Regions from separate parts of the Homo sapiens genome. Here region 2 is reported to be linked to region 1. The links are microRNA targets in miRTarBase. Many come from high-throughput screens and were not tested one by one. Region 1 holds a microRNA gene; the other region holds the end of a gene's coding sequence.
Evidence for each region. The annotated mature microRNA hsa-miR-6765-5p reads GUGAGGCGGGGCCAGGAGGGUGUGU and lies in region 1 at 1,255-1,279, shown strand. An mRNA with a match to its seed (bases 2 to 7 or 8) in the 3' UTR can be bound and repressed. Matches are read on the target gene's strand: a 7mer-m8 pairs with bases 2 to 8, a 7mer-A1 pairs with bases 2 to 7 and ends in A, and an 8mer does both.

Region 1 (3,151 bases):
TGTGGGTTGTGGGGGAGCGGGGGGCCGGCTTTTCCCCTGAGCATCCCACCCCTGCCCCCAGACCTGAACTACTGTGGCAGCCACCACCCCTGCACCAACGGAGGCACGTGCATCAACGCCGAGCCTGACCAGTACCGCTGCACCTGCCCTGACGGCTACTCGGGCAGGAACTGTGAGAAGGGTACGTGGGGGGCTGGCCACCCAAATTCTGGCCAGGCAGGGACTGGTTCCCTGGGGAGCCGGTCAGGCCCCATCCCTCTGGCGTCCTGTGTGGTGGGCCCCTGACCCCCAGCTTGGGAACCTGTGGGCTTGGGGAGGAGTGCTTGTGGAAAGCTGGGGGCCTGGCTGCCAGCTCTGCCCCCTCCCCGCGGTTCTACAGCTGAGCACGCCTGCACCTCCAACCCGTGTGCCAACGGGGGCTCTTGCCATGAGGTGCCGTCCGGCTTCGAATGCCACTGCCCATCGGGCTGGAGCGGGCCCACCTGTGCCCTTGGTGAGTGTCTGCACGTGAGTAGGGGACTCCTGCCTAGTATCAGTGGGGGTCTGGGAGTGGGGCAACTCGCTGGGGATGGGGTGCAGTGGTCAAGTCCACACGTGTGGCTGCGGCTGGCTTGGCGAGGACAAATGGCAGGAAGACCCAGGCTTGCAGCGCCACCTGCCCATGGGGACCTTATTCCCACGGCTCACACTGCCAGGGCCCCACCTTTCTCCACCCTCTGCAGACATCGATGAGTGTGCTTCGAACCCGTGTGCGGCCGGTGGCACCTGTGTGGACCAGGTGGACGGCTTTGAGTGCATCTGCCCCGAGCAGTGGGTGGGGGCCACCTGCCAGCTGGGTAAGGGCTCCGAGCGAGTGCATGGGAACGTGGGCCGCGCATGCGGGCTGCGGGGGCTGCTGGGGCTGCGGGGGCTGCTGGGGCTGCTGGGGCTGCTGGGCTGCGGGTGCCAGGTGCCCGTGCTGCAGGGGGCAGGCAGGGCCCGAGCCCCACGGCTCCCACCTTGTCTCTTTCACAGACGCCAATGAGTGTGAAGGGAAGCCATGCCTTAACGCTTTTTCTTGCAAAAACCTGATTGGCGGCTATTACTGTGATTGCATCCCGGGCTGGAAGGGCATCAACTGCCATATCAGTCAGTATGGGGGGTGGGCGCCGGCGGGTGGGCCGAGGCACATGGGACCCCGCCTCTGACCCTGCTCCTCTGCCCCCAGACGTCAACGACTGTCGCGGGCAGTGTCAGCATGGGGGCACCTGCAAGGTGAGGCGGGGCCAGGAGGGTGTGTGGCGTGGGTGCTGCGGGGCCGTCAGGGTGCCTGCGGGACGCTCACCTGGCTGGCCCGCCCAGGACCTGGTGAACGGGTACCAGTGTGTGTGCCCACGGGGCTTCGGAGGCCGGCATTGCGAGCTGGAACGAGACGAGTGTGCCAGCAGCCCCTGCCACAGCGGCGGCCTCTGCGAGGACCTGGCCGACGGCTTCCACTGCCACTGCCCCCAGGGCTTCTCCGGGCCTCTCTGTGAGGTGAGGTCTGCCTGGTCACCCTGCCCCACCTGCTGCTCTGGGAGCTGTAGGGCAGGCCTCGTCCCCTGACCATGGGGCCTGAGTGACCCAGGGGTGCTGCAGGGGAAGTTGTCCCCAAGGCGTCCCAGGCTCAGCTCTCCACTGGGTGCCAGGTGGGCAGGCGGGGCTGTCACAGGTCACCAGGCTTGGCCCCCTGTGGCCATTGCTTGTTGTGATGGGTTTCCTGGTGGCCTGGGCTAGGAGCCCCCGGGCTGCTGGCTGCCCAGGCCTATCTGTCCATCTGTGCACTCCCTCGGGACTGGAGGGCAGGGGGCTCTGGTGGGCAGAGCACATGGGGTAGGGTGGGTGCCTGATGGTGGAGAGGTATACACCTGTCATAGGTGAGTCCTGGGTCGGAGTGGGCATCTCTCTCAGGGCTGATGCTCTCGCCTCCCTCTGACCATCTGTTGGTACTGGACCCCCTCCCCCAACCTCCCCTTCCCCCCTGCCTCCAAAGTAACCTGCCTTCCCCCTTCCCCACCACCCCTACCACCCCCTTCCCCACCTCCCCCTTCCCCACCTCCCCCAACCCTGCCTCCCCCCACCCACCTCACTATCACCCCTCCCCTACCTCCCCCAACCCTGCCTCCCCCCACCCACCTCCCTACCACCCCCTTCCCCACCTCCCCCAACCCTGCCTCCCCCCACCCACCTCCCTACCACCCCCTTCCCCACCTCCCCCAACCCTGCCTCCCCATTACCTGCCTCCCTACCACCCCCTCCCCTTACTTCCCCTTTTTCCCTGCCTCCCCCCACCCACCTCCCTACCACCCTCGGCCGCCCACGATCCTGCCCTGGCCTTGGTGCAGAGGATGGGCCTCCTGTCCAGAGGGCTTCTTGGGGCCCAGGGCAGGGGTCTGACCTCAGGACCTGCAAGCATGGCAGTGGCTGGCCCTGGAAAAGACCCACAGTCTTGGCTCTGAGGGTGGCCAGGCAGTGTGTGAGGGGCTCAGGAGCTGTCCTTCCTGCCAGCAGCAGGGGCCAAGGCCACACTCCTCCCGAGGGACAGTGAGGAAGCTGGGCTGCAGTGGAGGTGGGGGTGGGGGCCCACAGGTATCTGCGTTCAGCTAAGGCCTGGGCAGTCTCAGGTGGGCAGGGGTCTTGGGCTCTGGCTGGCACTGTTAGGCCCAGGGCGGAGGGGCCTGGGGGTCCCCAGGGATCTACCTTCGTATGGACAGAGGCCTGGCCTGTGTTCCCGGCCTGGGCCTGGGCCTAGGCTCTCACAGGCACCCCCCACCCTGCAGGTGGATGTCGACCTTTGTGAGCCAAGCCCCTGCCGGAACGGCGCTCGCTGCTATAACCTGGAGGGTGACTATTACTGCGCCTGCCCTGATGACTTTGGTGGCAAGAACTGCTCCGTGCCCCGCGAGCCGTGCCCTGGCGGGGCCTGCAGAGGTGCTGGGTGCGGCATGGGGTGGTGGGGGAGGTGGTGGGGCAGGGGCGGGCCTGACTCCTGACTGTACTGCCTGCCATAGTGATCGATGGCTGCGGGTCAGACGCGGGGCCTGGGATGCCTGGCACAGCAGCCTCCGGCGTGTGTGGCCCCCATGGACGCTGCGTCAGCCAGCCAGGGGGCAACTTTTCCTGCATCTGTGAC
Region 2 (3,000 bases), not on the chromosome of region 1:
CTGCCTACTAACTAGTTTGGGCAAGTTATTTAACTTGTCTAAGGCAGTTTTCTTAAATGAAGTAATGCTACCTACCTCATAATTGTTCTGAAGATTAAATGCTTATAAATATACATGTATGTATATATGTACATCCAAAAACATACTAACATAGTGTAGCATTTAGTAGGAGCTTAATAAATATTTCTAGTACCATCCAAGCAAGAAAAAGAATTCCTAAGATATGGTGATGGTGACATAACTGAATTTAAGTTCAGAATTTCTTTTATGTATACATAGCTTTATTTTGAGCAGTCATCTTTGATACACAAGCTTCTTCTCTTCCTCTTTTGTAGGTACTGGATGTAAGCAGAGAAGGCAAAGAAGAAGTATTCTATGGGCCTACACTCCCTTTTGCTTCCAATGGAATAGCAGCATGCTTCCTTCCAGCTCCATATTTTACATGCCCTAACCTTCAAACTCTTCAAGTGCCTCATCACAGGATTGGCACCATCTGAAAAGCCAAGCCATCATGAACAGGAGGAAAACATAGCTCTGACTGTTGGATACTGGGCATGAAAAGACTCAGTGCTCCATGCTTCCTTGTCTTGCTTTATAGGTCTTATATTCGGATAAATTTAAGCAAAAAATGAACAATTTTCTAAAATACGTTATTGAAAACTCGTCACCCTTCTCAGTGTATGTCAACATTCAATATGTATGACTTTTATTGTGGTATAGCTTAGTGCCAATTTAAGGTATATTGTGTTCCATGGGTCTTTAGAGCATTCTTTGTACACTTTTTCTAATCAGCACTGTCTTAAGACAACATAACACTGTTAGTAAGGCAATTTATTGGACACAATGGCATCGATGATCTTAAAAATATATATATTCTGTACTTAATCCCTTTATTATTTAAAGCCGGGCTTGTAATTTTTCTTTTTAAAATTTAACATTATGCAGCCCTGCTCAGTAGAGACTCACTCAGCATTATGACATCATAAATTTTTAAATGCCATATTTTATTCAAGGTGATACGAATAATAATAGACATACACTGGAACAGCAGTTGTTGAAATACCCAGATTTTTCACCTTGGTTACTCTGACCTTGGGTCAGAACCTAACTTTACAGTGCTTCAGTTTTCCCACCTTTTAAGGAGGATAATTACTGATTTCCACGTTAATTTAAAAGAACATTATGAGGATTAGGCGAACACTTTGTAATACTTTGCCCAAGAAAAAGAAAAATGTTGTTACTGAAATTATAAGGTATTTTATTGTCTTTAGAACCTTGTAATTGAACAGGGAGATTATTTTTGAAGTTTAAAAATTACTAGATAGAATTTGGAAACATGTTGTGGAATAAATGATTCTAAAAAGCATGTGAAAGAGACACACAATGAGGAAATAGGGAGTTTCTCAAAATCTAAACTTGTACAGGTATCTAAACTTGCCTCAAGTAACTCTCAGATGTCTTATTTAAAATCATTTAGTGAAAAATGACATTTAAAGCTAAAAAATAATTTAGTTGTACTAATTATGGTACCATAAAGTGCTTTGACATAAATTTGAACCTAGAATTGGCAGTTCTAATAAAAGTTTTTCCACTTTGTTAAAGGTTATGTCAATCTTGAGTGCTTGTGGAATTCTTCACCACCAATACATATTTTATTACTATCTCTTTTAATAATGCATAGGAATTCTTTTTTAGACTAGTTTTTGGGTTTGCTTTGTCTATAACAAAAAATAAATACAACAACTTAATAATCACATTTGAAAACAAATTTAACAAGTATAATGTGAGTTTTTCTTTTTTCCTAACTTCCTCAGGACCTAGGTCACCTTTATTAAAAGGAAGAATTCACTCTTTTTTCCTTGGCAGTTTAATCATTCAGGAATCCCTCTCTTAAAGGAAATTGTTATTTTATTCATGTAACCTTTTTTTGTAATCAAAAGTGAATAAAAACGATCTTTTTGTCTTACAGAATTCACTAACTTCATATATCGTTATACACAAAACATTGAAAATACATAAAACATTGAATATATGGCTTCTGGTTATTCAGATTTAAAGGGCAGGAAAGGGGACTAGGGAGAAGGAAAACAGGTAAATTTTAAAAAGAATAGGAATTTAGTATAGACAAACCTTAAGAGTATTTGGACAGTTCTGAACAGTGAAAATTGATATTGACAATTGATATTTACAATGAAGACAGCTTCTTTAAATGGTTTAAGCCATCTAAACTAAATTTTAAAAATGCCTTACCAAGGCAGGAAAATGAACTCCAGTATTTCAGAAAACTTTTCAACAAGGACTTAAGTATTCAGCTATATTAATTTTTCTACTTGGGACATGAATTTTCTCTCTAGCAGTTTTACCTAGTAAAACTATTAAAATCTATTTGTATTCCCAGGCCCTACATCCAACCAATGAAAGGGAAAAGCTCTAAAAATAAGCTTGCCCAACTAATAATAGCCTGAAAGGTAGCCTGAAACTACCCTTATTTCTGTATATATTTCTAACAATTCATATAAAACAAATCAGCATATATTAAACCCCTCCTAAGTGATCTTTATAATGTAATATTCATTAATATTACAGAACTGAACTCAGAATTTTAAAAAGTTTTACCAGGTTCAGACACATCCTTTACAGCTATAGCCAAGAGTAGTACAAAAACATAACATCTCTTCCCTAAAAGGGAAAAAACCTAGATAACTTATAATTAGATCCTTTTATTCAAGGTTATCAATAATAGAAATAAGAATTCTATTAAACTATGGTCATATGAGCCAAATTTCACTGAAACTATTCAAATATACATTTTCGATTTAAGTGAACTACACTATAGTAATTCATCTTCCATTTCCATTTTTACTCTTCAAAATTAAAGGCTATATTGTATTTGTAATGTAAATTATTATACTAATGTGAATTTCTATAGGAAGGTCATGAGACTTGCAAACATTTAAATATCACTTCAATATTTTACTTTAAAAGAGGAAACAAAACACA

Region 2: the mRNA of KLHL32 is a reported target of hsa-miR-6765-5p. Seed matches in the 3' UTR shown: 7mer-A1 at 1,437-1,443.

Annotation. Positions count from the first base shown.
Region 1 is chr14:105,148,968-105,152,118 of GRCh38, reverse strand. MIR6765 (microRNA 6765) reads left to right here and starts at 1,255; the gene lies at 1,255-1,341. It overlaps JAG2 (jagged canonical Notch ligand 2), which reads left to right. Exons shown (of 26, transcript NM_002226.5): 7 at 62-181; 8 at 380-493; 9 at 723-836; 10 at 1,015-1,128; 11 at 1,208-1,254; 12 at 1,342-1,515; 13 at 2,799-2,949; 14 at 3,030-3,151.
Region 2 is chr6:97,138,786-97,141,785 of GRCh38, forward strand. KLHL32 (kelch like family member 32) reads left to right here. Exons shown (of 11, transcript NM_052904.4): 11 at 336-1,968. The coding sequence ends at 497. Among named protein-coding and RNA genes, the nearest start is that of MMS22L, 140 kb to the right of the region's middle.